Regions from separate parts of the Homo sapiens genome. Here all the other regions are linked to region 1. Evidence: fine-mapped expression QTL. A gene starts in region 1. Each other region holds a variant in brackets. All regions are shown on one strand. Distances are from middle to middle.

Region 1 (6,700 bases):
CTCAAGTTGGGGCCATCTCATAACATCCAAATAAAATGAACCTCATTTAATGTGTTCCTATAGTTCAGTCTGTTCTCACAGCAAGCTCTGGAGCCTGAGTTGTACCACAAAGATATTCTTACCTTGAGGCAAACTTAGTCTGACCTGGAGGCCCTGATAGCCATTGCCCCTAGGACTGGGGGAGGGATGGTCATAACTCCTTAGGGGAAGGGGCGCCCATTCAACCTAAGGCAATTCTCTGGAGAAGGGGCAGCAATGAACTGTCAGCCACCAGCCCTCAAGAAACAGGCAGAGTACGGTAGCTCATGCCTATAATCCCAGTACTTTGAGAGGCCGATGCAGGAGGATCACTTGAGCCCAGCAGTTCAAGGCTTCAGTGAGCTATGATGGCACCACTTCACTCCAGCCTGGGCAACAGAGCAAGACCTCATCTCTCTCTTAGAACAAAAACAAAAACAAAAACAAAAACAGCAGCAACCAGAAGATGGTTATCCCTCATGGTGAAGGGGATCTGGGCAGGGCATCCCCGCCTCTGCTACAGGGAGGGCCTATTAATATTATCATCCCCATATTACAAAAGAGGAAAGCAAGGCCTGAGAAGTGAAGGAACTTACCCATGCCCACAGCTGGAAGTGATGGTATCAAGGTCTGTTGGGTGTCACTGGCTGTTGCTGGAAGACTAAGCAGCTATTGAAACAGAGGACCAGCAAGGAACTTGGAGAAAGGCAGAGCTACTGAGTGAATCTCCTTAGAAAGGGGTGGGGAAGGCCGAGGCGGGCAGATCACGAGGTCAGGAAATCGAGACCACCCTGGCCAACATGGTGAAACCCCATCTCTACTAAAAATACTAAAAATACAAAAAAATTAGCTGGGTGTGGTGGCATGCGACTGTAGTCCCAGCTACTTGGGAGGCTGAGGAAGGAGAATCACTTGAACCCAGGAGGTGGAGTTTGCAGTGAGCTGAGATCACGCCACTGCTCTCCAGCCTGGTGACAGAGCGAGACTCCGTCTCAAAAAAAAAAAAAAAAAAAAGTGGGGGTGGGGACACGAAGGGACAGGGCTGCAAGTTGCTCACAATTACTTTGCTAAAGCCAAGCTACAGAATGACATCTGGATTCTGTAAATTCATGTATACCATGCTTGAGGACTCATGCCGCATATTCCACGTGGTGCTATAGAAAAAGTTCGTGGTGCTATAGAAAAAGTTCAGGTACTGCACGTCTCTTGACGATGATGGTGTTCACTAAGCCTCCTACCAGCTCTGTGACTTTGGGCAAGTTTCTTCACATCTCTGTGCCTCAGTTTCCTTATCTGTAAAATGGGGATAATCATATAAATGGGGTTGGTGTGAGGATTGAACGAGTTAGTATTTGTGGGGTTTTTTGGTTTTGTGTTTGAGATAGATGGAGTCTGTCTCTGTGCCCAGGCTGGAATGCGGTGGCACCATCTTGGCTCTCTGCAACCTCCGCCTCCCGGGTTCGAGCGATTCTCCTGCCTCAGCGTCCCGAGTAGCTGGGACTACAGGCGTCCACCACCACGCCCAGCTAATTTTTGTATTTTTAGCAGAGATGAGTTTTTGCCACGTTGGCCAGGCTGGTCTCAAACTCGTGACCTCAGGTGATTCGCCCACCTCAGCCTTCCAAAGTGCTGGGATTACAGGCATTAGCCACTGTGCCCGGCCTGCAACGTTTTCTTTTTCTTTTTTTCTTTTTGGAGACAGTCTCGCTCTGTCACCCAGGCTGGAGTGCCGGGGCGTAATCTTGGCTCACTGGAACCTCCGCCTCCCGGATTCAAGCGATTCTCCTCCCTCAGCCTCTCGAGTAGCTGGGATTACAGGCATGTGCCACCACGCTAGGCTAATTTTTGTATTTTTAGTAGAGACGGGGTTTCACCACGTTGGCCAGGCTGTTTTCAAACCCCTGACTTCAGGTGATCCGCCTGCCTTGGCCTCCCAAAGTGCTGGGATTACAGGCGTGAGCCACCTTGCCCGGCCCGCAATGTTTTTTCTTTCTTTCCTTCTTTCTTTCTTTATTTTATTTTTTTTTTGAGACGGAGTCTCGCTCTATTGCCCAGGCTGGAGTGGTGCAGTGGCGCGATCTCGGCTCACTGCAAGCTCCGCCTCCCGGGTTCACGCCATTCTCCTGCCTTAGTCTTCCAAGTAGCTAGGACTACAGGCGCCTGCCACCACGCCCGGCTAATTTTTTGTATTTTTAGTAGAGACGGGGTTGCACCGTGTTAGCCAGGATGGCCTCGATCTCCTGACCTCGTGATCCACCCACCTCGGCCTCCCAAAGTGCTGGGATTACAGGCGTGAGCCACCCCACCCGGTCTTTTTTTTTTTCTTTTTTGCCGGCCCGCAATGTTTTCTTAAACTTTTTATTTTTAGCTATCCTGTTGAGGTTCTTCCAGATGAATTTTAGCCTCTGACCCAGGGGTATGATTTGATAGGCGTGGAGTTCTGGTTACTTCTTAAATGAAGAGTTTCCCCAGGATATCTGAACAATTCTCTTGGGTGGAAGACTCAAGGATCATGAAAACGAAAACCAAATTCTAGTCGGCTCCTAAAGTCCTTTTGCCTCCTGCGGTTACCATCAAAGAGCTATGGTCAAAATTCCAAGGGATAATTCAGGGTCTGATTCCACTATATATCCCCAGACCGCCTATACATAAATCCATATTATTGGAGATTTACGCTTAATCCTATAATCTTTTACCTAACAGCTGTCCAGTAGAATTTTCTGGATGTCCAATAAGGTAGCCGCGTGTAGCTCTTGAACACTTGAAATGTGGCTAGTCCCCTAGAGGAACGGGATTAATTTAAATTTACATAGCTACAACTACTTATCGGTCACTGCGGTAATTGTTAAGACTGGTTTTGCCTGTAACTTGCATATGTTTTATTGGACATCAGTTTCAATATTTCATTTGCATTGCTAAAAGTCAAAATCCTTTTGACTTTGCCAGTTACTCAGTGAGAGGACAGTTGGAGCCAGTTTCTGTTCTAGGCTTACAGTTTTAAGGACAGATAAAGGTTAGTTTTTAACCTCGAGATGAACAGACTGTTAAGTTTCTACGGACTTGCCCATGGGGTTCCACAGTGAGCCTGGGCCGGGGAGGCAGGTACTGTGTCAGGGGGAAGAAAAAAGGGGCTTCTAGCTGGGCAGGTGACACACAGGGCATAGGAAGAGGTCAGTTCTTGTGGCCGAGGAGGTCCGGCCCGGGGGTCCCAGGAGCAGAGATCTCCCTTCTCTTCGATGTGGAAAGTGAGGAGGGAGCAGAGCCTTGCTCAGAAACGGAGCTCCCCCAATCCCCCACCGCCCTAGCTACTGGACTGGAACTAGGATGGACACGAATGTCCTTCTCATTGTACTAACTGCACTCAACAAGCGGGAAAGATGAAGCGAGGGGGTTTAAATGTGTGCGTTTGTTGAATGACCCACAAAAACTGAAGGAGCGCGGCCGGACTGATCACACTCCTTGAGACAAAGCGGGTGGGAGACCCAGAGGTGAGGAGGGTGGTCGCCTGTGGGCGAGGACTGGGAGGCCAGGGGTTCTCGGCGAGGCGGTCCCAGGAGGCGGCGCGGAGCCGCTGCGAGGCCGCAGGGCCGGGTCGCAAGATGGCCGGGCCGGCCTCCCGCGCGGGTCGCGCGGGCCACGCGGGCGGGTTTCAGATGTTCCGGGCCCGGGTAGGGGCTGGCAGGAGAGAAGGGGCCGGCTGCGGGGAGGGCTGGCTGAGAAGAAGCGAAAATGGGCGGTTAGCAGCAGGGACCCGGAGCCGGAGGAGCCGAGAGCAGCGCGTGCGCCGAGCTCTACTGCCTCGCGGGAAGGCGGAAGGGTGGGGAGGGCGGCGCTCGGGGCGGGAGGCCCGGCCGGGTCCGCTAGGACAGCGGGGCCGCTGGGAAGTTGTGAGAGCGGCGCTCGGGGGCGCGCTTGCGTGCACGAGGGCCCGGGCCGCGAGCAGCCGCGGCCGTCCCGGTCGCCACCCTTAGCAGCGGTCGCGGTCGGTGCCGAAGCGGTGTTCCCCGCCTTAGCCGCTGGCGCCTCCCAAGAGAGCGGCCGGTGGGCCCTCGTCCTGTCAGTGGCGTCGGAGGCCGGCGCTGCGGTGGCCGCGCCCTTCTGGTGCTCGGACACCGCTGAGGAGCCGGGGCCGGGCACGGCTGGCTGACGGCTCCGGGCAGCTAAGGCTGCCCGAGGAGAAGGCGGCGGCCGCGGCGTAGGCGCACGTCCGGCGGGCTCCTGGAGCCTGGAGGAGGCCGAGGGGACCATGTCCGGGAGGCGCTTCCACCTCTCCACCACCGACCGCGTCATCAAAGGTGCCTGGCGGGCCGGGCCTTCCTCTGGGACCCGCGGGAAACGGCCTTCGGCTGGGCGGCGGCTCGGGGCGGAGGGAGGCTGGGGCCGGGCTGCGCCCACCCTAGGAGGGCTCGGAGGGGTGTAGACAGAGCCGGGCGGCAGCCTCCGAGAGCAGCCACCCGGACCCGGCGTTTTCTGCTGCACCTGGTCAGGTGCCTGGCCGTCAGTGCCAAGTTCCCTCCCGAAGGGTTCAGGGTGCAGTGGGGACTTCTTCTCCCACCGCCCCGAAGGGCCCGGATCCCTGTCTTTTTTTCTCTTTAAGAAACGACTCGGGGGAAGCCATCGGGGGTGGTGTGAGCAGGGAGTCGACTCTTCCAAGTAAGATATTTAAGATTAGATCTTTCTTGACGTCCGCCCCCCACCCTTTTTTAGGACGTATACCATGTGCCTTTTGACCCGCTTTCTCTAGATCATTGCAAGTCACTGCTATTACTGGAATAAACTTAGTATGAACAAGTCAGATAAATCCATTATATGATGTTTAAAATAAGTTTACGGAGCTCTTGACAGGGTAATGGTATTTTATTTTCCCTTTGGTTATAAAGACTTGGAGAATGACGTTTTCTGATTCATATGTGTACCTGCGTTAGATTTCTGTTGTTGTTATAAGAACAAAATGTAAAGGGCTCTTTGCTCTCTAAATCTTGTAGAGTTTTAGGTTATAGTTGTTTCTCCCTTTAAACTAAGAAGATGGATTACACATAACCACTAATTTATGTGCTGCTTTTATTCAGCCGTAAGTCTTAGGCACAACCCTTCTCTCTGAGATTAACAATCGGTTTGAAAGCGCTATTTTGTAAGAAGGGAATAGACTTAGACCAGCTGTGTTAGTGGCCTCTGGATGCAGGGGTTAGCGTGACAGTGGGGAAAATTATTAAGATACTTTTCTTCTTTTTCATTTTGGTATTAGAAGGAGAAAGGCAACTAATACTAGTGACGGGAATACATTTTTAAAAGGTGAAACGCCTTATTGCATGTTCAGGGAGGGGGAAGAATTTTAGTGTATAACTTAGGTTTCCCCCCTCTCTCCCCAAATCAGCCTCATAAATGTTAATTATCTGTACTACATAATTATAATGGGATTTTTGAGATTTATCTGCTTAGCATTTGTATGCTATCGTTAGAGGTTTAACTGAATTGTTCATCTAACTGACATTATCCCCTGAACAGCTAAATTATTGTGACCATTTAAATGTGTCTTCATATTATTAGTGTATAGCCTATAAGAAGTATATAGCCCTCTCTTAAGATTCAGAGTGTACTTAACATAACCTTTTTTGAGGAATCAAGGTCATTATGTACATTAATTTCTGTACTGTGCTGTTAATATGGCCGGTGCGTTCTGCTGTATAAAGTTGTTAGCAGTTTCGTCCTGTACTAAAATGACTTCGCAATGCTATACCAGTTCAGTGTTTTGTTTGCTTTTAGTTTCTCTCTCCAGTACTGTTTTCTGTCAAAATATGCCCTTAACTGCTTTCTAATCTGCTACGTCTTAGCTGAAGTAGGCAGGGAAACCAGATAAGCCAGAACTGTGGGTCAAGTCAGAATAAATAGGATCTTAGTGAAGCTTAGTGCAGCCCTCAGGAATCTCACAATCAAATCACCATTGTGCCATGTAATTTCCACCATAACATGCCATAAGATCAAAAGAAGATTAAAAATCTTAAATGACCCTTAAATATAGTAATAAATATTGTAAAATAAAATGTAATAAAATAAAAAAGTTAAAATGCAGGGGCTAGGGGCAGGCATGGTGGCTCACGCCTGTAACCCCAGCACTTTGGAAGGCCCATATAGGCAGATCACTGAGGTCAGGAGTTCGAAACCAGCCTGGCCAACATGGCGAAACTCCATCTCTACTAAACATACAAAAATTAGCTGGGCATGGTGGCGGGCACTGTAATCCCAGCTACTTGGGAGTCTGAGGCACGAGAATTGCTTGAACCCGGGAGGCGGAGGTTGCAGTGAGCCAAAATGGTGCCACTGCATTCCAGTCTGGGCAACAGAGTGAAACTCTCTCTAAAAAAAAAAAAAAAAAAAAAGCAGGGGCTGGTTTATTGCTACGCATGCTTATTATTAAATAAACACTGTCATCATATCCTGCAGGATGCAAATTTGTTCTTTACCAAAATTAATTACCGAATATTGTGTACTTTTAAGACTGCTCTTAAATAAATGAAATAGAAATAATTTCAGGTCCTTAGAATGTATGGATTTCTCTCCTATATAAAAACTTCGGCATAAGAGCTTGACCACAGCATTTGTGGCTTCATGATGACTTATGGTGCTTTTTTCAGGGTTTTCCAGAGTTTGAAATAGTTGAAGAAAATGAGGTGTCACGTGTGCA
Region 2 (8,400 bases), 47 kb after region 1:
TTGGACTTTCTGCTTTGTCCTGTATTTCCTTTCTTAAATAACCATTTTATTTTAGGATGAAAATTTGCCACATAAGATTCTTTGTCATACAAAATTATTCTATTTCTCAATAAAGGACACATTTTAATGCCTATCTTGTAATTAAAAAAAATTTTTTTAAGAGACAGAGTCTTGCTCTGTCACCCAGACTGGAGTGCAGTGGTGCAATCATAGCTCACTATAACCCTGAACTCCTGGGCTCAAGCAGTCCTCCTGCCTCAGCCACCCCAATTAGCTAGGACTACAGGTGTGTGCTACCACACTTGGCTAATTTTTTTTTTTTTAATTTTTTTAGAGTTGGGTCTCACTGTGTTGTTCAGGCTGGCCTTGAACTTCTGGCCTCAGGATACCCTCCAACCTCAGCCTCCCAAAGTGCTAGGATTACAGGCATGTGCTACCACAGCCAGCTTGTATCAACAATTTTAAAAACAATTAATTTATCAAAGATTTACTTAAGTCACAAGAACTGAAAAAACATTTGGGTTAATTACTACATATTTTATATGAGCACTTGTTTACTTAAACTAATCAGAATAAATTTTTTTAGGGATTTCTGGCTGACTATATGAGATTTTATTATGTAGACACAGCATACAACATAGTATATATATATAATATAAGCATATCTACACAGATATACATACTTATAAATAAATTCTTATGGCTTTTGTTTTAGAGTTTTGGTCATGAAATAGTAAAACACTCACCAATTTATAAAAAACAGTAGGATCCAGATTATCTTTCTGACAAAATGGAATAAGGCCAAACTTAATGTTCTTTTTTAAAACAGGCAATATTATAAGGGTTGTGAACTAAATTTTGAGTAAAGTAGTTTGAGTCAGTTACCAATAAACTGGATTCGACACAGAATAGTTAATTGTGGAAATATGACTGAATTATCTTCTAACAAGGTCTGTTCAGTATTTTATTGGTCTCAATTCTTTATCCTTGAAGATAAAAGTGTTGCCATTCCTTTTACTGTGGGCAGGCTATCTTTACATGGGAATTTCATTTTTGCAAAGGAAAGAGCATGAAGGTCAAAATGATTTTCTTTAATATCTGCTGGTTTTAAGTGTTTTACTTAAATGGTCAGTATGCCAGAATAGTTGAAGAGTTTTGAAGAAAGAGTTTAGAAAAAGATAAGAGGAGGCAGAGCGGGAGGGGAAAGCTCTAGAGAGGAAAGTGATTCAGCTAGCTTTGAGGCAGTGTTTTGTAGTGAGTCATTCTTTGAGTCCTGAATCCTTTTTTTTAGCCTCAAAATATCAATGAGATACGCATATCTTATTTGGAGTATATTATTTTCTAACTGTGGTCTTTTAGTTTAAGGAACAACAGACTGTTTGAATGATCCTTACGATGTTTGAACATGTTACCGGCTGGAATCCCAGAAAATATCTTGGCATGCCTTTGAATTTTGAGAGCCCATTTTATTGTGGGTGCTCTGGTTTAATCCCAAATACACAAAAACCAATTAAATATAAGCACTGAATTTGCAAAGGCCAAATAAACGCAAGCACAGATGGGAAAATAAAGTACCCACTTACCAAGAAGGACGATAAGAAGCCTTCTCCAACTGAAAGAAAAAAGAGAGATCCCAAGGCCTCAACCCAAAGGGAAAAATCCCTTCCCTGAGACCCCACAGCCAGGGTCTACAAGGAGGAAAAGAGTCTTCCTTAATAGGAGATCCCTCAGCCAGATCAGACGGGAAGGGGAAAGACACCATCCCATCCAAATCCCAGATAAAACAGAACTCAACCAAAATCGGGAGTTCAGTCCAAGAATGACTCACTAAGGGAAAAAGAGGCAACTTGCAGAAGCCGTTAGAGGAGGGGGTGACTTTCAGAGGTCCCCAGTGTGGCTACCTTGTACTATAGTTCCAATGGCTGCTGATCTTCTCTGAGATGAGTCAGCCTTAGACTCATACTTGACCAAGTATGTCAAAGTCAAATGAAACACAGAGATGAATCTCTGAAATTAAGATGTTTTATTTGTGAAGAAAGAATTGCAATTTAGAGCATGCATGCAGACAGAATGGTATGTCCGAAGAACAAAGAGAAGGTTAGAGGTTTTATGAAAAAGCGAAATGTTATGTGTTGCTCTTTGAGAAAGTTCATTGGCACTAGTAAGGTTCTGGAGAGCTTGCCAGTTTTGATTGGTGAGTGATGGCAGTGGGTAAAATTAGCCTTAGAATTTCAGCAGATCATTTCAGTAGCCATTAGATAAAACTGGTTTCCAGTAATAGCAGGCAGTTTCGGCAGACATGCTTGCAGAGAATTACATTTTTGGGTCAATGTTATATGTCCTGAGTGCTTCCCCCCCGCCCTCTTGACTCTGTTTTAGTTGGGTATGACAGGAATAACCCAGTTCATATGATCAACTTTCACAGTAGTTAATGATATAAATACCTTAATTTATTTCACCATTCCTCTACTGTTGGAAAAATAGGTTTATAGCAGGTCATGCTATTGCATACATTTTCCCTCTGTCTTCCTTACAAACAATATCTCTATTTTATTCAGATAGATGGGATTGGGGTTGCAGGGAGAAGCTTTGATCTCAGGGAAGGAAGGCCCTTATCCCAGCCCCAGGGAATGAATTCTGGGTGGTCTGAACTACTCAAGCCAATCAATTTCCTGTCACTAATGATTGGTCTAGGGGTAAACACTGGATTTTCTTTTAACCAGTAATATATAAAGGGAACTCTGCTGGGTTTTTGTTTGTTTGTTTGCTTTTGGAAACACTCTTTCTTGATGAAAAGACTATTGCAAGGTTGAAGCTTTTGGACCCCCATTCTACCATTTCACTTCATATGTGGATGTGTGTACTGTAGCAGCCATGCTGTGACTATGAGGAGGTGACATGACTAAGGAGGAAAAGCAGACCTGTGAATCGCTGATCACAGAGGTACAGAGGGCTTGGTTTCTTGGTGAAGATGTTGAACTAGTACACCAAACCTGGACATCTCATCTCCAGACTTGATGTGTTTTTTGTTTTGTTTTTTTTTTTTTTTGGGACGGAGTCTCACTCTGTTGCCCAGGCTGGAGTACAGTGGCACCATCTCGGCTCACTGCAGCCTCTGCCTCCCAGGTTTAAGTGATCCTCCTGCCTCACCCTCCCGAGTAGCTGGGATTACAGGCACCCACCACCACGCCTGGCTAATTTTTGTATTTTTAGTAGAGATGGGGTTTCACCATGTTGGCCAGGCTAGTCTCAAACTCCTGACCTCAGGAGATCTGCCTGCCTCAGCCACCCAAAGTGCTGGGATTACAGGCATGAGCCACCGCGCCCAGCCCAGACTTTGTGTTTTATGAGGTATTTAAATATCTTACACAACAGCAAATTGGATTTGATATCACTTGTATTTAAATGGTACAAAGTTGTCTTCCAATTATTTCCACTCTGCACATTGCTAAAGTTAACATCTTTTTGAATATATCTGTGATGGCATTTCAGATACTTAGATCAGATTCTCACACATGAAGTAACTGATCAAAGAGTAGAACATTTTTAAGACTTCTGCCGCTGATAAAACAAAATAGTAAAGTTTTATTTATCTTTGAGACTTTTGGTGTTCCCTCTTCATTTGTACCTATTACAAAATGCTGGCTGGGCGCCCTGGCTCACACCGGTAATCCTAGCACTTTGGGAGGCCAAGGAGGGTGGGTCACCTGAGGTCAGGAGTTCGAGACCAGCCTGGATGACATGGTAAAACCCTGTCTCTACTAAAAATACAACAAATTAACCAGGC[G/A]TGGTGGCGTGTGCTTGTAGTCCCAGCCACTCAGGAGGCTGAGGCAGGAGAATTGTGTGAACCCTGGTGGCAGAGGTTGCAGTGAGCCTAGATTATGCCACTGCATTCTGGCCTAGGTGACTGAGTGAGACTCTGTCTAAAGAGAAAAAAAAAATAAAAACAAAGTGCTTCCTCTTCCTCTGTGAGAGAAGAAGCTAAATTTTAGTTTCTTTAATTGATTTTGTGAGAAAAGAAAAGATTAAAGGGAACATTTTCAGCAAAGATATACTGTATTAAAAGCACAGAAGCTGCCAAAGAGAAAAATGTTATCAGATGAGCAGGTGATATAAATGTTATTAGATGACCAATTGATGAACAGGTATTGACACATAGAAATGATTCTGGAGGCAGAGTAAAAATTCTGTTCACACAGAAGTAAAAAGTAATTGAGTGGTTGAACAGATCTCTTGATAATCATGACCTTGTAATTGAATTATACAAGACAATTGTACAGTTGCATCCTGATGTATAAAATAAGGAAATAAAACTTGAAATTAGAGGCCAAGAAGCACATCACCAAATGACATTATACTATGGGTGGATTGTGCCTTTATATATCTCGTTACCTCAAAAAGGTGAGTTAGAAGGCACAAATGTATACCCAGATAAATCAAAAGATATATTGTGTTCTTGGTTGGGAAAGGTAGGTATAGAAAAGAGAAGTGCATTCTAAATTTGTATATTGATTTAATATAATTTTTCCTTGGAATATTTTGTGAAAATTGTTATCTTGGTAATGAAATTTAACCCCTCAAAAGAATAAAGCCACACAAGGTTATTTATATGTGTCTACATGTTTAAGCTTTATGATTATTTTGCAATGCCTGTTTCAAAATGTGTATATGCTTTAATGCAACAATTCCATTTTTCAGAACCTATGCTTTAGATGCACTCATAATTACGTACAATGATGTTTGAATTGTTTGTCACAATGATTGAAAGTTTCTTTTGGCATTTGATAAACAGGCTTCAGGGATACAAAATACCCTGCAATGTGTAGGAGACACCTAAACAACAAAGAATGAATGATTCTCAGATTGTCAACAGTGCCTGTGTTAGATTCTGGGGATCTAACAGGGAGATGCACAAGCAAAGTCCTTTACTGTATTTTCTAGTGAGAGGGACAGCATCATGTATTTGTTTACCATCCATGAGAACCAAATCAGAGGAAGGAGCTAAAGCGGGACAGGAGCAGCTAACTTAGATGGAGTGATCAGGGCAGGTTCTTTTGAAGAGGCAATTGTTGAACAGAATGACCTGTGGGAACAAGCTGTGCATAGATCAGGGGAACTACATTCCAGGCAGAGGCACAACCAGTGTAAAAGCTTACAGGCAGAAGCAAGTCTAGGGCAGTCCATGTATAGTAGTGAGGCTATCGAGGCTAGACAGAATAATGAGTAAGGGAGAGATGGAAGAGGTGCAGAGAGTGGGGCAGATAGATGATGTCAGGCCTAGTAAACCATGTCAGTGCATTTGGGTTTTATTCTGAATGTGCTAGGAAGTTATTGGAGGAATTTTTTTTTTTTGAGCAGGGGAGTGACGTATTCACATTTATGTTTTAAAACAATTACTTTGGCTGTTAGAAGGTCAGTTGACTTTTGGAGCCCAAAAGCAGGTGCAGGGAGACCAGTGAGGATTTAATCTAGTAATATAGGTAAGAGATGTCAGTAATTAGATTAGGCATACTGAGAAACATTTGGATTCAGGATTTCAAAGTCTTTCCTTTTTGAGGAGGTGGGAAAGTCTCAGTTGAATTGATCGAGCTCCTCAGGTCATGGCACATTTCTCATCAGTCTTTGCAAAGTCCCTCTTTTTTGTTTTATTCTTTTTGTGCTTATCTGTGATCTCTGAGTTCCTTACTCCCTCTCCCCAGTATACACATGCTTCTACTGTATTTAATATATGATTCAGAATACATCTAATGTATATATGAATGAATGATTCTCAGATTGTCAACAGTGCCTGTGTTAGATTCTAGGGATCTAACATGGAGATGCACAAGCAAAGTCCTTTACTGTATTTTCTAGTGAGAGGTACAGCATATATATATATAACAAATATATATTATATATAATAGTGTATATAATATATAATATATAATAAGTATATATTACATATAATATACAATAAGTATATATTATATATAAGTATATATTATATATAAGTATATATTATATATTATATATAAGTATATATTATATATTATATATATAATAAGTATATATTATATATAAGTATATATTTTATATTATATATATAGTAAGTATATATTATATACATACATAACAAATAAATATATATATATTCACTAATTTGAGATGGAGTCTTGCTCTGTCTCCCAGGCTGGAGTGCAGTGGCACGATCTCAGCTCACTGCAACCTCTGCCTCCCAGGTTCAAGCAATTCTCCTGCCTCAGCCTCTCCAGTAACTGGGATTAGAGGCGCATGCTACCACGCCCAGCAATTTTTTTTTGTATTTTTAGTAGAGACGAGGTTTCACCATGTTAGCCAGGGTGGTCTGGATCTCCTGACCTCGTGATCTACCCACCTTGGCCTCCCAAAGTGCTGGGATTATAGGCGTGAGCTGCCGTGCTGAGCCAATACATCTAATATATTAATTTTTTAATGTATAGAGCTTTTACAGATAAAATATTTTAATTTTACATAAATGATATGGTGCTGTCCAGTGGTCTTGAAATGTTAACATACACCATTATTACCTGGAAAGCTTGTGCAAACAGAGGTTGCAGGACCCTGACCCTGTTTCTGACTCATCAGGCGTGGGGTGGAACCTGGCAATCTGTATTCTGTCGGGTTCCCAGGTGATGCTGTTTACCACACTTTGAGATGAATGTGACCATACTTTGAGAACCACTGTTGTAGTGCTATTTATACTGTTGACTTTTTTCACTTACCACTTTTTTTATATTTATATATATTTTATTATACTTTAAGTTCTAGTGTACATGTGCACAACGTGCAGGTTTGTTACATATGTATACATGTGCCATGTTGGTGTGCTGCACCCATTAACTCGTCATTTACATTAGGTATATCTCCTAATGCTATGCCTCCCCCCTCCCCCCACCCCACAACAGGCCCCAGAGTGTGATGTTCCCCTTCCTGTGTCCAAGTGTTCTCATTGTTCAATTCCCACCTATGAGTGAGAACATGCGGTGGTTGGTTTTTTTGTCCTTGCGATAGTTTGCTGAGAATGATGGTTTCCAGCTTCATCCATGTCCCTACAAAGGACATGAACTCATTATTTTTTATGGCTATGTAGTATTCCATGGTGTATATGTGCCACATTTTCTTAATCCAGTCTATCATTGATGGACATTTGGATTGGTTCCAAGTCTTTGCTATTGCGAATAGTGCCGCAATAAACATATGTGTGCATGTGTCTTTATAGCAGCATGACTTATAATCCTTTGGGTATATATCCAGTAATGGGATAAGATATATCCAGGTTACTACTATACGTGCCTCTAGTTGATTGCTTTCTGCCTGCTGTATAGAATTTCACAGTATTTATGTATGACACTTTAGTTTTCTCTTTTGCTTGGTGGACACCTAGTTTACCTCCAGTTTCTTTCTAACATGAACACTGCTATGATGAACACCCTCATATAAATCTACCATGATTTAATGTCTCTAGGTTTTATGAACAAAATCGGATTGCCAGGAGAAAGGGTGTATGCATTCATACTTGAACTGAGCATTGGTTGCCAGATGGCTCTTCAGAATGGCTGTGCAAGTCTCTATTCCTACCAGCAGCACTGAAGAATTCCTATTTCCTCACATCCCTCCTTCCAGAATATGATTTTATCTCATATTATAATACTTGCCAATATAATGGGTATAAAGTAGTATTCTACTGTTTTAATTAATGTTTCTCTAATTACTGATGAAATTAAGCATCTCATATGCCAGCCATTCAGCTCTTGCACTCACTCTTAGGAGTTTCTTATGTGACCTTTCAGAGATAGGTTAAACATATACAAGCATATTTGCAAATCTAATGAGAAAATAGTGTACTTGTCACTATACATTGCCCTTTAAGTGCTGCTTTATCTGAGTCCCACAGATTTGGACATGTATTGCTTTCATTATCATTCAGTATTTTATATTTTAAGAATTCTCTTTAACCCTAAAATAATGAAGTAGTATGTTTTTTCTTTCCAGTCATATGGGATTTTTTTAGAGCTAGTATTTTGTTACTGATTATTGATTTGATGTAATTTGATTAAAGAAAATGATTGGAATAATACTCATTCTTTGAAATTTATTGAGACTCCTTGTGGTATAGTACAGAGTAGATTTTTGTGATTTTCCCATATATTCTTGGAAAGAACGTATATTCTCTACTTGTTGAGCTATTCTTTATAACTTTGACTATTTTTGTCTGCTTGAACTATCAGTTACTTTCAGCATTGTGTCAAAATTTCCAACTACCATTACAGTGTCATGCATCGTTTAATAAGGAGGGTACGTTCTGAGAAATGGGTGCCGATTTTGCTGTTGTGAAATCATCATAGAGTGTACTTACATAAACCTAGGTGGTATAGCCTGCTA
Region 3 (8,400 bases), 350 kb after region 1:
TGTTGGTTTTCTTCTGTCCCTGTCACCAGCACCCCTGCAACCTGCTACCAAACTGAGTAGATGATGATATGTAAGTGGAGAGGGTGTCAGGGTTGAAGGAAGCTATGAAGGTTTCATGGAAGAGGTGGGGCTTGCGTAGAACACACAGCACACTCGGAGTGGGGGATGGGGTCAGGAATCAAAGGCAAGAACGAGAACCAGAGAAGGAAGGAAGGGAAGGGACAGAGTGTGGTTATCTTGCAGTTGCTTTTACAATTTGTCATTGATGCCTTGATTTGAAGGAAACTGAGGCAATGGAGTAGCTGAGACAGGCCTCCTAGCCTTGAATTCTGGCCCTGCTGCCAGTGACTGGATGTGACCCTGTAGCCAACCTCCCGACCTCCCGTCCCGGGAGATGTGCCAGGCTTGGGTGCTGCGAGCCGGGAGCCTGATTTAGCGCACGCCTTGTTAGGAGAAGCTAATTAACAAACCTGCATTTAAATAAGCAGCCGCCCGGGTGTTTGTAACCACCGCCTTATTGAATTGTGACAAGTTATTAGCCCTTGCATGTTAAATGAAACAGAAGCATCCAGGAAAAACCCCTAAATCCAATCTGCATAAAGCAGATTCCTGCTGAGAAAATGACGGCAGCAAAAACTGATTCACTCGCCGCTTTGGGGAGAACTCCAGGCCTCCCTTCCTTCGAGGTTACATAACCCTCTGTCAACAGCGACATCAGGAGAAAGGCAGCGAGCCGGAGGGGGGACCGTCAGGAACGCTCTGGGATCCATCTGGGCGTCACCTTTTGCGGGTGCTGGGGACACTGCTTGCGTGAAGGAACAGAAACGGGCCACGTGTGCACGGTTTGCGCATGTGAGCTGTGTCCAGGCCTGCTCCTCAGATCCCAGTGTGTCTAGAACACTTTGCCGCCCACTCTGTCCCCACTTTTCCCAGGCCTAGATGCTGCTCCCGTGGCAGTGGGACGACAGGGCAGCTCAGCACAGACCCACGGGGGCCCGGCAACTTCTCTCTGCATTTCCGCAAATGAGGGGAAGCTAGGAGCAAGGTCAGCATGTGGTGCCCTGACAATTCTATTTTGGAGGAAAAAAGCCGTTGGCCCTCAGCTGTCTTCAACCAAGGATACTAGAACCGGAATCGAGAGCTGCTGTGTCCTCAGTTAAATTCCTGTCCTCCTGGGGCCACCTATGGGAATCTGGCCCAAGTGCCCCTCTGCATTTCCTGCCGAGTGCCCAGGACAGAACCACGGCCATTTCGAGACCCCAGATGTCCTCCAATGTGTCCTCTCGGAGACGCCCTATCTCTGGAATGGGGTAAGGCTCTAAAAGGCAAATTGAGGTCGGCGGTCTGGCTTGGGACAGATCCGCCATGTGCTCCCTGGCCACAGATCCTGCTCCTGCTCCCTGAGGGAGGAGGATTGAGACACAAGCCCAGAGAGGGAGGCAGGGGTGATCCAGGGTGTGAAGGAGTCAGATGGGCTCTGCCACCTGCTAGCAACATGGCCTGGGAAAGTTACAGATCCTCCCTGAGCCTGAGTCCTCATTCAAAACAGGAGCAACAGCGACCACTCCAGGTCCCCGGAGAGGCCACCTCAGTCTGGCATCGAGAAGCTTGTCAATGACTGTGAATAGAGGAGGAAAAGAGCAGACCGACAGGCAAACGTGGAGCTGCATTTTCTGGGCTTTGCTGCTCTTCCTCCTGGAGACAACGGGGCTACTCTAAAGAATGCAGGTTTAAAATCTCAGCTCTGCTCCTTACTACCTTCTGTACCCCTGGATAGGTGGATTCACTTCTTTGAACCACAGCTTTCTCGAACGTCAAGTAGGGTCAGTGCTTATTTCGCAGTGTTATAGTGGGAATAAAATAAGACAGTGCATGTTTAGAAAGTGCCCAGCATGGAGTAGAAACTGAATACATCCTGGCTGTCTTTCCCTTCCTCCTATCCCCTTCATCCGGCTTTTTGTCTCCCAGCAATAGAAACACTAAACCGTTTGTTCTGGAGGGGCTCTGGATTAGTGGTACTAAGGAAAGAACACTCTAATACATTATGTATTCTGGGGCTTGTGTTCCTTGGTTGGGACCTCTGGTAATAGGCTAGGTATATTTCTGTTTTTTTGTTTGTTTGTTTGTTTGTTTTTTAAGAGACAGGGTCTTGCTCTGCTTCCCAGGCTGGAGTACAGTGGTGTGACCATAGCTCACTGCAGCCTTGACCTCCTGGGTTCAAGCAATTCTCTGGCCTCAGCCTCCTGAATAGCTGGGACTACAGTTGCACGCCACCATGTCCGGCAATTTTTTTTAGTTTTTGAAGAGACGGGGGCCTTGCCATGTTGCCCAGGCTGGTCTCGAGCTCCTAGCCTCAAGCAATGCTCCCACCTCGGCCTCCCAAAGTGCTGAGATTACAGGCATGAGCCACCATGCCTGGCCCCTCTGGATTTTGAAACCCTGTCTATTAGTGGCTTTAAAAAAAAGTTGCTAGGGCAGCAGCTTGGGGGAGCAAAAAGGAAGCCATCTCTTTCTCCTCAGTCCTAACGTCATCAAATCTTCATCTGAGTGATCAAAGGTTGTTCATCAGAGCACACTTCATACAAAGCTCCATGCCAGGGAGTGAGGGATTGTCAATATCCAGGGAATCCTATGCAGGAAACAGGGCTGCACCCCCTACCGCTTTTTTTTTTTTTTGAGACAGGGTCTTGCTCTTTCACCCAGGCTGAAGTGCAGTGGTATCATCACGGCTCACTGCAGCATCAACCTCCAAGGCCCAAGTGATCCTCCCACTTCAGCCTCCTGAGTAGGTGGGACCACAGGTGTGTATCACCATTCCTGGCTTATTAAAAAATTTTTTTTGTAGAGACAGGGTCTCTCTGTGTTGCCCAGGCTGGTCTGGAACTCCTGGGCTCAAGCAATCTTCCTGCCTCGGCTTCCCAAGAGTGCTGGGATTACAGGCGTAAGCCACTGTGCCCAGCTAAGGGCTGGTCCCTTCTAATGGGGATTCTGATGTTTGGGCAGGAGAGGAGTCTGTAGGGGTGGGTTCCTCTAGGAACACTATCTTGGAGGGTGGTAGGATTTGCACAGGTGAGGAGAGGGGTCGTATTTTTCTAAAAGAATGAAATATAATGAGTGGAGTTGAAGAGTTGGGGTCTTCCTTTAGATACACCAGCCAGGTTAGCATAAAGAGTTTGTTCTGGAGAAGAGGTCAGAGGGCAAGAATTACACTGAGTCTTAAAATCTCAAACTGAGCTAGCCTTGAGAACGTTCCTTCCATAAGGTCTGGAAATTGGCAGAGGCGGGGGAGGGGGATACCAACATTTTGATGGGCGAGTTTTGTCCCATGGCACCCATACCCTCTCCTTGTAGTCAGAAATGACTTAGTACAGATTCTCAGTTGGCTGGTGATGGCAAAGAGAAAAGAGGAGTTATCCTCTAAGGCTAATACTTGCTCCTCTTTGCCACTGCTTACGCAGTCAACAAACACTTGTTGGGGGTAAGGCCAATTCAACATGGCCTCTACTCTCAAGTACTTGAGTCTGGTTGGGGATTCAGAGAAATAAACCACCACTACTACTCCTACGGCTACGACTATGAGTAATTGTGCGACGGTGCTAAGTTCCCTGATGGGGAATGTGGGAGTTTCCTAGGTGAGAGGGGGCTCAGTTCTGCCCCAAAGAAGCTGGGTCACAGGAGGGCCCTGTGAAGGGTGAAATGTTTCAGCTCAGCCTTAAAAGAAGATCTGGGCAGATGAAGGGGTCGAGGTGAGGGCTGGGGAAGGGAAGGGTTTACGTTTCGTTGATAACGCGTTGTGGATGGGCCTACAGAGCGTGCAGGGGGAGGCGTGCAACGGGCCCACAGGCTTGGAGCTCTGGCAGAGGAAAAGTGGGTGTGGCTGGAGGCTTCAGGGATGCACGGGCTCATCCTGGGAACATATGAAGGGAAGGGGGATGCTGGGAGAACCAGGAGCAGCAGGCAGGAAGCCAGGTAGAGGGAGGGAACCTGGGAAGGATGTTGAGAAGGACTGGCCAAAAGGGCAGGTGGCAGTGGGATCCAGGTAGCTGAAAGATGAAGGGGTTTCAAAATGGGAGAGGGCTTCTAACTATCACCGAGAAACCCCTGGGACAAGAACTGCATGTTTCCATCAGAAAGTGGCTGCCAGGGGGACAAAGAAGGAGCAGGGAAAGACGAATGAGAAGAGAAGAGGGAGAAATGGCAAGTGCAGCCTGCTCTTAGGCGGAAGCCGTGTGGCTATGAGGGCCCATGAGAGGTGACGCAGGGAGGGAAGGCCCTAGAAGCCCTGAGTTATGGCAGTGGGGACCGAGGTTGGCAGGCTGGGGCACAAGCAGGGTCCTGGCGGTGTTCAGAGTCTCACCCATACTGCGAGGAGTACCCAGGACAAATACCTACACGTGTCCCATCCTGGGCCTCGGTTTCCTCATCTGTAAACTGGAGAGGCTGGACCACAGCCTTGCTAGGTCTCTTTTCAACTCTAAAATATGACTGTCCTGATGGTTATTCATATGCTATGAATTCTAAATTGATACAAGGATTCTACATTGATAGAAATTCTAAATTCTGGATGGCATTTTAGTTAACATGTACCAAAAAGCCTTTGAATATGCAAAACCTTTGACCTCTGAGAATTTATTCTCAGAAAGTCACCACAGAGGTGAATGAAGAGTTGTGTATTCACAACTTTGTTCATTGTAGCGTTGGTGATAATATAAAAAAAAAG[C/T]AGATACAACCTAATGTCCAATAGTAGAGGATTGGCTGAGTAAATTATAGTACATCCATATGGTAAACTACTTCTGCACTAAAAATCATGGTTTAGAAGATTATGTGTTGACATGGGAAAATGTTAATGATATATTGCTAAGTAAGAAAGCAGGCTACATTGCAGAATGTACAGTATGATACATTCATTTTCAAAATTTTTGATTAGGACACAGACCAAATCTTTAATTAATGTCATTTTTTTTCTTTTCTTGGCAAGCAAGAAGAGTATTATCTAGAATATTGTAACTAAAAAATGAAACAGAAAGACAGTTATACACTAAGTGTGTTCACAGGAATTTTTAAGTCATTAGGATGGAGAGTAGGCTGTCAGTGAGTCAAGGAAGCGGAGAAATTCTGAAACTATAGAATTTTAGAAGCGGAAATCACCCCTAGAGATCGTCGGGCCCAACCTCGCTTTTTTTGAGACGAAGAAATTCAAGCTCCTAGGGAAGTCTAGACAGTGACTAGTCAGAGATGGGGGTGGGTGCCAGCCTGAAACTAGGGTCGTCCAACCTTCAGTTTATGCTGGTACGTTTGCCACCCCTCAGAGAGACCCCGCTGATACTTAAGAGGTGACTCTATTCCTAAGCCCCCTGAGGTGGGGCTGTGGGCTCCTCCCTTCCTCCCAGCCTCTGAAGACCTATGCAGCTCAAAGCTGCTCTAGGCCACAGGAAAGTACCTGGGCCCACTGCAGAGCTCTGGGGCAACGTCTGCAGCAGCATGGGGGTCCTTTGCGAGCTGATCCAGTGCCCCAAAGGGAAATCAGTCTCTGGGTGGCCCAGAGCTAGGCTTCACTGTCTTCTTAAGAAATGGATGCTCACCTTGTCAAACACTTTTGTGACAGACATGATTCTCCTTCCTCCAGAAAAAATTCCTCTCCGCCTCCCACTCTGCTAACCCTCCAATGCAAAGACAGCACTTCATTTTTACCGAGTTCAACATCTTCGGGGACAGGTGCAACGGGCAGATGCCCTGTAGTCCATGTTGATTTGGTAATTCTGTAGCACTCTTTCTGATGCAAGAGAGAGGGTGTTGGGCCTGGCCTTCCAGGATGGGGAGTCCAATGCCTCTTCTCTGGCCCCATGGCCCGCTGACCCCCATGGCCGCTCCGTCATCCCTCTCCTGGGCCACTGAATAGCCTGCTAGCAGATCTCCCTGCTCCTCCCCATCAACCCTCTCTAAGTCTCAGCACCAGAGCTGTGGTCTTTATTTCATATGCCTGTTAACTTCCTTTTGTCATCCTTCAACCATTGCATGGGCTGTTTGATGATTCTTTCCTTCCTTCCTTCCTTCATTCACTCATTTATTTATTCATCACATGTGCAGGCAGAGAGCTAGGTGCAGTTTTGCCCTCAAGGAGGTCACAGTCCAGAGTGGGGGCAGAGACCCTTAGAACCAATTATCCTCAGGCCATGTGGAAGCACCTCCTGAGGGGGTAGATACAGGGATTCAAGGGATGACGAGGGCCCTGATGGCTGAGGTAGACCAGGAAGCCTGCTTACATCGGTGGGATTTGAACCGTGCCTTGGCATACCGGTGGGGGAAGAGGGGCACGGAAGAGGAAGACATCCCAGACAAGGCCCCTAAGCATGGCAACAGCTTAGCAGGGGCAGAAAACACCAGGGATATCTCGGCCTTGCTGGGGCTGGTTGGGATGATGGGATCACGTGGGGTGGAGGGGGAAATAAAAGCTGGGCTGGGGCCTGACCTTGAAGGGTCTTGTGGCTACCTTTGAAGGCTCAGTGTTCTAGTTCCGAATTTGTACATTTTACAGGCTTCTGGAGAAATGAAGAGTTGGCTCCTTTCTCAGCAAACAGACGGGGTTTAATTGCTGTTACTGTCAGTGTAGTTGCAAATATCATATAAAAAGGGCTTTTTGGCTAATTGTTTTTAGAAGAAAAATTCAAGAACTATGTATAGATATTATGCATCCAGGGTACTTTAAAGATCAAACTGTTTATATTACCCTTAAATACAGTCTTTAGCAGGCGGCACTGGGCTCTGTGAGTAACTGGGACACACGATGACCCCCCAGGGCTTAAGATGCTGGAACAATATGACAGCAGTTACTTTATTTCTGAGGGGAGGTGGGGGTGGTCAGCCACTACCCTTTGATAGGCCAGAAGACCAGATGAATAGAGATCTAAGCTGGGTAATGTTGCTGCACCATTGCCCTAAAGGGCTGCCTCTTCACGCAGGCAACCAACCTCCCCACCCCAGACACACACAGAAAGAACTGGATTCCACGGGCTTCTGGGGGTGCAAGGGGAAGGGGCTGCCATATCTAGTGGGCTCCTGGAGAAGCTCGGGCTGAGGAGCAGAGAAGGGAGCAGCCTCAGAGCTTCTCATCTTGTCTCCGGTCCTGCAGTCTTCTTTCCTCACCCGCAAATGGTAGAGAGAGGAGTTTTGAGCCGTACAAATAAAGCAAATTCATATCTGCTCATTGCCATCCTGTCCTCATGCTCAACCCTCTCTCAAATTTTAATTTGGTAGCTTTTAGAAAGGCAAATTTATTTGTGACACCATCCAAATTCTATTTTATTGGAATCCTCTTCTCCAAGGGTGCGATCGACTACCGAGAAAGCTGTGGGCTTCTCCTTTTGATATTTTCCCAAGCTCTCTGTGCGTTCGCGCGTGCTTGTGTGTGCGCGCACACGCATGCACATTCATTTTAGGGTCCTCTACATATTTTACGTACAAACACATAATGCATATTCACAAGGCAGCCGCGGAAGTGTAGATATATTCATCACATATATGTGTAACTCAGTGCAGACTCCTAGAAGCCAATATTTAAGTTATCATATTTAATTTATTCAACAAACATTTAATAAGCACTTACTCTTCATTAAACACTGTCCTAGGCCCTGAGTGTACAGCAATAAACAAGTCAGACAAAGCCTGTGCACTAGGGGGCTAACATTTAAAAGCACTGGATTCTTTTTTTTTTTTAGACAGGGTCTCAATCTGTCTCCCAGGCTGGACTGCAGTGGTGTGATCATGGCTCACTGCAGCCTTGAACTCCTAGACTCAAGTGATCCTCCTGCCTCAGCCTCTAGAGTAGCTGGGACTACAGGCACACACCACCACGCCTGGCTAAGAACTTTTTTTTTTTTGTAGAGACAGGGTCTCACTATGTTGCCCAGGCTGGTCTGGAATTCCTGAGCTCAAGGGATCCACCTGCCCCAGCCTCCCAAAGTGCTGGGATTACAGGGATAAGCCACAGCACCCAACTTGGATTTTTAGTACAAGGTTTCCAAACACATGTGAGGGAATCTGTGTGGACAGTCACAGAGGGAGCTGGCTAGGTCAATAGATCAGCACTCCCTTAATCCAGGAGAGACAGCCATTTGGGTGCAATATTCCAAACAAAGGTGGCATTAGGGTTCCCTGCTGCAGGTGACATCTCAGGGCTGCAGGGCCTTACCCCATAGAACACTTCCCGGTGCTTCTAAGGTGGAGATGAAAGAGCTGGAGACAAGGGTTGGTGGGCCCCCTGCTTTGTGGCCTTAGATCTTTACCCTACAGTGGTATCGGTCCGTGTCCTTGGTCATATCCTTTCTATGATTCCAGGTGATTTTCAATGCCTTCCTCTTCCATAGAGCCTTTCCTGCTCATCCCAGTCATAACCAAAGATGC
Region 4 (8,400 bases), 100 kb after region 1:
TATTGATTCACAGGAAGTGAGTTTATTTTGTTATTTTCACATTGGAGTCTCAGTTCCACCAGCTCATTGGCTAACTGGAGCATTAACTAAAAAAGACCTTTTATTGTTCATATAACTTAACTTGGAGAGCTTTCAACCAACAGTATCCCATATGGCCATGTAACATACATTCATGTATGTCTCACCTTGATCTAAGAGGGATTGGCGTGAGTTACAGTATACATGAAACATAGTGGAGTAAAATAAATATGCTTGGAAATTGAAGCACAAAGGTAAATAAAAATAAAGCCAATAGCCACAAATTTGACTCTAAGCATCCCAGTAGCCAAAATAGTGGGGAAAGCCAAGGACAGGACAAGATTCACAAAGACCATCAGATTAAAACAGATCAGTTATAAATTGGACTACATCAAAATTAAAAACTCTGTACTGCAAATGGTACTATCAAGAAAATGAAAAGACATCCCACAGAATGGTTGAAAATGTTTTCAAATCATATATCTCCTAAGAGATTGGTATCTAGAAAATATACTCTTACAACTGAATAAGAAGACAACCCAGTTAAAAATGGGTAAAGAATTGAATTGACATTTTTCCCATGAAGACATACAAATGGCACATGAAATGATGTTTGACATCATTAGACATTCAGAAAATGCTAATCAAAACCACAATGGGATACCACTTCACAGTCAGTAGGATGGCTGTGAAAAGACAGCAGTTAATAAGAAGTGTTGATGAGAATGTGGAGAAATTGGGACCTTCTTAACACTGCTGGTGGAAATGTAAAATGGTACAGCTGCTTTGGAAAACATTCTGACAGGTCTTCAAATGATTAAACATAGAATTGACTTATTACTCAGCAATTCCAGTCATAGCTACATACCCCACAAAGAAATGAAAATATGTCCTCGCAAAAACTTGTACACAAATGTTCATAAATGGCATTCAACATAATAGCCAAAAAGCAGAAAAAAGCAATTGTCCATAAACTGGATAAACAAAATGTGGTAAACGCAATGGAATACTATTCAGCCATAAAAAGGAATTAAATGCAGGTATACATGTCAACATGACTGAACCTTGAAAACATTATGCTAAGTGAAAGAAGTCAGTCACTACAGACCACATATTATATGATGCCACTCATTTGAAATGTCCAGAACAGACCAATCTAGAGAGAAAGTAGATTCGTGTTCAACCAGGATTAAGGGGAAGAGGTGAGGGAAGGAAATGGGAAGTGAGTGCTAATAAGTGGGGGATTTCTCATTGGGGCAATGAAAATATTCTAAGCACAGATTGTGGTGATGGTTGCACAGCTCTACTATATTAAAACCATTGACTTGTATACTTTAAACAAGTGAGTTTTGTGGTATATGAATTCTATTTCAGTTAAGATGTTAAAAAGGAAAACAAAAGTTCGGGTCATTTGATATGACTGTTTCTTATAATGGCCCTTACTGCAGGCTGCTATCTTTATACCCAATGTGAATAGCAATTCTGGGAGGGCCCCAAACAAGGTAATATCATACACATTTTACCGTGTAGCTTTTAAGCTCTAATTAGACCAACACTCAGTGTAGAGTTTCAGCAATGCTTTGTTCTCCCACTTCCTAACAGTTACATCAGTGATGTGCTGTGAGAAGGCACTGTAGCTTTCTTGTCAAGGGTATTTGTTCTACTTAAGGAGATTAGAGAGGGTGTGACAGTGATTTAATACATGCCTGCCTATGGTTGACAAATGAAAGCACTTCATAAGTAGATTTCAGTTATCCATTTTTCACATTCCATTAGGTAGTTAATGTAGTTCTTTCAGTTTCTCTTCTCATATTGATATATAAAGCCTTGGGAATAGCAGCAAACTGTTACTGCTCATTATTCTTCACTGCCTTCTTTTGGCAAATTGGTACTGGAGTAACTGACAGGGTTCTCCTAATAGGATCTTTCTTGTGGCACCCTGTACCTTTTCATATATTAGCGTTTTTACTGTCTGAGAAAGGAGATGCAAGGAAGTTTACCTGTTGGTACTAATTTTTAAGTTGCTTCCTTTTCCATTGCTAAGAAAGAAGAGGGCTTTCTTAGTTACTGGCCAACTCTCTTGAACACTGTATGGAAGCCATATGGATTGGAAACATTAGCCTCTGCTATATTTTTATAGCAGATGGGTACACACATTTGCATTAGGAATTCAATAGTTCTATGCTTTTGTTAGCTTTGTACTCCACTCCTGGACAAGAAATAACCCTTCACATGGAACCTATTTTTCTCTCCTTCCAAATGCCAGTCTGCTGTTCAAAGGCCACTCTTTTTTTTTTAAATGAAGTAATTAATAGGGCAGTTGGACTCCAAATAAGTCACTTGAGAGCAGTAAGATGTAGTTGTAAATAAGCTTTTTGAATAGGACCCAGCAGTAGCTCATTTAATATCACCTGAGATATTTTACAAACTAAGGATTGTTGTGATGTCAAACTATTTGATTCTACATGTTGTTTCGATACGTGGATATCAAGATATAAAGTAGCAGTTGGCTACCTAAAATGAAAAGAGCAATGTTCCATGGCACCTGAAATGTTAAAAATATTAGAAACTCTCCCCCACCCCATATTCCTCCCACCCCAATTGAGTCTCTCGCAATAATCTTCTCGCTTCTCTAACTAGTTGACTTTCATTATGGATGGGGATAGGCTAAAAAACGGGCCCCTGGGATGGCTGTGCTGCCATCAGTGCTGTTGGTTTACTCACTCTTTTTCTGTCTTCGTTTTTGCATGCTACTGCTCCTGCCCTCTTACAGCCACAGTAGAAGCGGTAGAGGCCCGGGAAGGTATGGCCATATTACTCTGATAGATGTGATCCATGTGTCTGTGTACTGGTTTTTCGAAGCTTTATCAACATTTCAAATATTTTATTATTGCATCACCAGAACTATAACAGTGAGAAAAGGTATAGTTGTTTCTAGGCATGTTAACGAAGCAGGTGTTTCCTTTGTGTCCTATCTTTGCATTAATTTTAAATAACCTTCACCACAGCTACAGTTTTTTTTCTGGGCTCTATCAGCTTTAATGCAACGGCAGAAGCTTAAGCAACTGGTCATGAGAGGTCAAGTGGTTTACTTCTGTATCCCTTCCATGTACAAGAGACATCCATTTGATTCTCAAGAGAGCCAAATAGGTCAGCCTCTTCAGCGATTCTAAAAGATTTCAAGAGCAGAGGCAGAAGTAGACTGGAATTTAGTTCAATTCATTTCTGAGGTTGCCCTAAGGTAGGCAAGTTAAATTAACTTTGTTTCTATGAAAACCATTGGAACTGATAAACTTGTATTATACTTGTAATTGTTTTATTAGGTAAGATGGTTCAAAACGCGAATGCCTTAACTTGGTGTTATAAAAGTTGAATCGGAAGGAAAATATGTAGAAGCTATTTTTAAGTTTTTAACTTATGTACAGCTCCTGGTTGTGCAAGATAGAAAGCTGTCCTAAACGAAAAGATTAGCTCTTTTGTTACTTTTTTTTGTGGTCTATGTGGCCTTTGTGCGAAAAGCAACTACCCTGGGTTTAACTTGTTCAATTATTCTAGTGTTGCCTTTGTTCTAGCATTGAGTATGTTTCTGGTGCATAAGACACTCTTTCTTAAAGGTACTGGGGCCCAGTAAGTACTTGTTAGCTTTTTGTTAGGTATATGTCTACCATGATTATGCATATAGAGCTTTTATGAAAATTACTTTCACAATTTCAGCTGCCCTTTGGGCTTTAAGGAAGCAGTAGCTGCAGCCAAGACTGATTCAGTCAGACATTGCCCATGACTTTCACTAGACGTGTGCTCCATAGCCACCTTTCTGTGTGTTTCTCTAGGAGGTTGCTGTGTGCTAAGAAACTTTTTTTAAGCCTGTTGCTTTGCTGCCTAATTGAGCTCTCTCCACCTGCTTCCTGTTTTTCTGTAGCCATCAGAGGGTTCTCGCTTCAGCACA[A/G]GATCCGGAGTTTTGAAGAAGCGCGAGGTCTGGACCGAATTAATGAGCGAATGCCACCCCGAAAGGATAGCATACACGCTGGTGGGCCAATGAAATCTGTAACCTCAGCACACTCACATGCTGCGCACAGGAGCGACCAAGGGAAGAAAGCCCATTCATGACTTAGAGTCCTGCCGTGGCTCAGGTGGATCTAAAACTCAAGAACAAATTCTATTTATTTATTATTGGAAAATGAAAAGCAACTCAAAACAACTTCAACGTGGAGGTGCATTTATAATTCAGTCTGCATTTATTCTGTAAAAAGGTGGCTGTTTTATAAATTCTTTTAATTTATGTTCAATATATATAAAAAGTGCATCTGTTTTGTTTTTCCCTTTTTTCTCCATAATTTTAAGAAATGAATCTGATTGTTGTCAACACATTTGTGAAGTCTTGTGCTATAAAGGGGAACTTCCCCTAATAAAAGGGCCTTGGAAACCTCAAACCTGGGTTTCTGACTTGAACTAGTCAGTCTTCATTATTGTTTTTTGGAAGGTAATGTCTTTCATGTAAGACTAATAACGTTTCAAATGCAAGAAGATTTTTTTCCTTTTCATTTTTTTCCTTTTCTGCTGGGTGCCATTGAAGAAAGTCCTCTTAGATTTCAGTGGCTAAAAGTGCTTCCCTTTTGATGGGAAACTGGATCATAGTAGAACTTCAAAGTGAATAACCCAAATCCAGTGATTTTAAGGGCGAAGGGAAATGTTTTCTATAATAACCTACTTTCTCTGGACTCTCAGTTCGTTTAAATATGTTCTAGTAAACAAAATAAAAAATAATAAGGGATGTTCTTAGATTTACTTAAAATCTGTTCATCTGACCATGGGCATGATTGGTTTAAATTTCCTTAGGACTTTGGAGGAGAAAGATTTTCAGAAAGCTTTCACAATTGCCAGATTATTTTACTTTCATTTTTGAACCCCAGGTGACTTCTGTAAAGGAAGTCACTTTCTAAATATTTGATAAATGCCCTCAGCAGCACCTTCTACAACAAGATGTATATATGCCCTTCTAGGCTGTTGGCATCAGCTCTCGCATGTGCCTTCCCATCATCCTTCTGTTGTTCCCTGTCAGTATTACTGAAACCAGCTGGGGTAGTAGAAACTGACAAGAGTTCAATGGTCCCCTTGTGAATTGAAGGTCTTGCTAAAGAACATTGGATAAGTGAGGATTTCCTGTCTTCTATATCAGTTACTCTTTAGGTTGAATGGTATTTCAGCCTTCATTAGCATATTTTGGAATGCGAAAAGCAAGTGTTCAGATGTAGTGTGTGAATTATCTTCCCTTAGTTTGATTTTCAAGTCACAACCAACTAGTGAAGGAAATTTTGGGGCTACTTAGGCTCCCATTTTAACTAGCCTCATCGCAGGAGCCGTGTCATAATAGTCATTGGTCAGCTCTGCAGTGAATGTACATGCCTGGGAACATTACATCAGAGCATGGAACGTGCACATTTATGGCATTCCTTAGTGTCATTTGTGATGCGGCAGTCTAGCACTAAAGCAAGTATTTCAGACAGTAATACTTCATATTGGGAGTTTCCAGGAAACCAGAAAAACAAAGAACAACATAATTTTGGTGGTGTTTTTTTTTTTCCCCAAAAAACCATACTTCTCATTAGAAGAATGAAGACTTAGCCCATCTATCTCTGTTTTCCTATACCTTTTTTTCTAACAGTTTCTGATTTGTTTATGGCAGAAATCAAGGCACTCTTAGGGAATGGAATCTGCCTGCATAGATTGCTCCATTAATAAAAAGATAGGAAGGAGATAAAGGATCTCTGAATGGGTTGTGAGTAAAACCTGTGAAAGAAGGGGGGAAAAGTCTCTAGTAACTGTCTTTTCCTGATTGTTGTTGAACTCAAATCGGGTATTAAGCACCTAGATATCCTTATGCTCCTTTCTTTTCCAATCCCAGGATTAGAAAAGATCCTGTCTTTGGAAATTTCACTGATGAAAGTCATTCCATGTGACAGACTGCAGAGCTGCTAGTACCTTATCCCTTTTCTCCTTTTCATTAAGGCTGTTACATATATACAATCCACAGGTAGAAACCACTCTTAGGGGCCTCCATAAGCAGGCAGTAGTAGAAATAGTTACTGTAAATCCTTATAAGCAAAAAATAATATTTTATTACGGATGATTATTTAGGAATGGCTTCACTATTGTCTCAAAAAGCAGAATGATAAAGCAAGTTTCCTTGACAGAACCATCACAAAATTATATACAGTATTTCACTGGTTCCCTCTGAGCTGTGGAGGAATCAGCCAGAGTAGAGAGGTAGGTGGTCCTGGTTCAAGAAAACCTGAGTAAGTTTTAGAGCAGCACTAACTCTTAGAGGAGGTTAAGTTTGAAAATTCGGTTGAATTCTAAAGATAAAGTTATCCCTTCCGTTCTGTAGCTGTTTTAATGTAAACAACAACTTCCAAGATGGCTGGACCCTGCCCTGGGTTTGCTCGAAGACTACTTTTCCTGTCTAGGGCCATGATTAAACAGACATTTTAATTGCTGTCAAAGTTCTGCAGTTTTGGTGTTTTCAAAGTCTCTTCTGTTTTATTGAATGTTTCCCCCTGTGTGTGCTAAAGATACTGGAAACAGTTACATTGTGTTTTCCTTCACAGGACCTTCCTTGTGGAAGGCCCACAGGGACCTTCTTTTTCTGCAACTTCTCCCATTTAGGAAAACAAAAACAAAACAATTCCTCAGGCATGTCAGGACTCCTTTGTAAACTTTTCTGAAATGCCATTTTGAAAATGATGCTTCACATGGACCAGGTTTCTCACTTTTAGTGACATACATATCACAGGACATTTAAATCGATCAGATGATTATTTCTTTTACAAATTTGAAAACTCATCTAATGTAAGTTCAAAACATATATCCTTTTTTTATTTCCGTGTTCTGAATGTTTAGAGCAAAAGCAAAACAATAAGCCAAGGGGGTGTGTGTGTGTGTGTGTGTGTGTGTGTGTGTGTGTGTGTTTCTTTAATAGAATGATAAAACAAAAATAGCCTCCGTTTTCCTTAAACTCTCAAGGTGACACTTTGGTTACAAGTAGAGGCATTGCTGATTTGCTGGTCTTTTGTGACTGGATATTGATTGGCAAGGTAAGAATTGCTTATCACACTCTGATGAGCTTGATACTGCTCCTTGCCTAGGAGTAAAAGACTCAGCCTCTCCAGGAACATCAGTATTTTTTATGTCTTTCATTGCCTTTTTTGGTTCTTCCATGAACAATTCAATGAAGCAAGTTTCTCTCAATAGCAAAGATTTGCCTTCTTAAGATTAGCTTTCTTTGCCATCCTGATAACTTAGGGATGATTTCCTGACATTGTTCAAAATAGGAACAGAGAAACCCTTATTTGTTTTGTCAATAGACTATTATTGAATGTCATTAAGGAGCAAGGGAAGATTTTTAAAAATTGGATAATTTCGGGGCCTTTTTTGCCTTTTGGCATTGTCCCTTAGATCCTCTTCCCTCTGAGTGCTTTAAAAACACACGGTTTGAGGCACAGCTGATCTCTATAGGAAAAATATTATAAGCCATGCCTGCATGAGACACAGCTGGACTTGCTGTTCATGGTCATTATTCAGGAGTCTCTCCAGCCTCAGAATGAGTAAAGCTAAAATCTGCTCCCTCTACCCTGCCCTATTTTATGTAAATATGGTAGCTGATCTCCAAAATTTTCAACTGTACCATATCTATAAAGTTTAACCTTTTAAGAATTTTCATCCAAGCTGGGCGCGGTGGCTCGCACCTGTAATCCCAGCACTTTGGGAGGCTGAGGCCGGTGGATCACAACGTCAGGAGATCGAGACCATCCTGGCCAACATGGTGAAAGCCCATCTCTACTAAAAATAACAAAAATTAGCTGGGTGTGGTGGCACATGCGTGTAATCCCAGCTACTGGGGAGGCTGAGGCAGGAGAATTGCTTGAACCAGGGAGTTGGAGGTTGCAGTGAGCCGAGATTGCGCCACTGCAGTCCGCAGTCCGGCCTGGGCGACAGAGCGAGACTCCGTCTCAAAAAAAAAAAAAAAAAAAAAAAAGAATTTTCATCCTGACCAATCTGGGTGACCAATCAATTAAATTGGTTTAGGAAGAGCTTGCCCTAGATTGGTTGATTTCATAATTTTTCTTTTTATTAATTATTGGGTTTTTCTCTCTGATCTCTGCATTGAAAATTATTTCCTAAGCCATAAAGACTTGTTGAGGTACCATTCTAGAATCCCCAATATTTATTCTAGTTGTTATAGTAACAGTGGAACCCAAGTTTCTCCTAAAGCATTACCCAGCTTTCCTTGCCCAGGCAGAAAAGATGGCAGAGGGAGGGTGAACCCAGGGCCCATCTGTGGGTATGGGCTCCAATTTCCTAAATTGTTTGTGGTTATAACCATGG

What was found. PIP is the estimated chance that this variant, and not a neighbour inherited with it, causes the effect.
Region 2: its variant is the best candidate, but not a certain one, in a credible set for the expression of PPP3CC in whole blood (TOPMed, PIP 0.71).
Region 3: its variant is the best candidate, but not a certain one, in a credible set for the expression of PPP3CC in amygdala (GTEx, PIP 0.87).
Region 4: its variant is the best candidate, but not a certain one, in a credible set for the expression of PPP3CC in whole blood (TOPMed, PIP 0.53).

The regions. Positions count from the first base shown.
Region 1 is chr8:22,437,146-22,443,845 of GRCh38, forward strand. PPP3CC (protein phosphatase 3 catalytic subunit gamma) reads left to right here and starts at 3,933. Exons shown (of 14, transcript NM_005605.5): 1 at 3,933-4,313. The coding sequence starts at 4,265. RefSeq lists silencers at 3,516-3,705, 3,796-4,455.
Region 2 is chr8:22,483,699-22,492,098 of GRCh38, forward strand. All of the region lies in intron 3 of PPP3CC (protein phosphatase 3 catalytic subunit gamma), which reads left to right. The region is part of intron 1 of LOC124901905 (a long non-coding RNA gene); the gene reads right to left. Among named protein-coding and RNA genes, the nearest start is that of PPP3CC, 47 kb to the left of the region's middle. The variant G/A (reference allele first, on the strand shown) is at 3,788.
Region 3 is chr8:22,784,163-22,792,562 of GRCh38, forward strand. All of the region lies in intron 4 of PEBP4 (phosphatidylethanolamine binding protein 4), which reads right to left. Among named protein-coding and RNA genes, the nearest start is that of PEBP4-AS1, 90 kb to the right of the region's middle. RefSeq lists enhancers at 1-136, 824-1,509. The variant C/T (reference allele first, on the strand shown) is at 4,721.
Region 4 is chr8:22,536,678-22,545,077 of GRCh38, forward strand. PPP3CC (protein phosphatase 3 catalytic subunit gamma) reads left to right here. Exons shown (of 14, transcript NM_005605.5): 13 at 2,792-2,821; 14 at 3,938-4,448. The coding sequence ends at 4,125. All of the region lies in intron 1 of LOC124901905 (a long non-coding RNA gene), which reads right to left. It also overlaps a transcript of SORBS3 not described here. Among named protein-coding and RNA genes, the nearest start is that of SORBS3, 11 kb to the right of the region's middle. The variant A/G (reference allele first, on the strand shown) is at 3,965.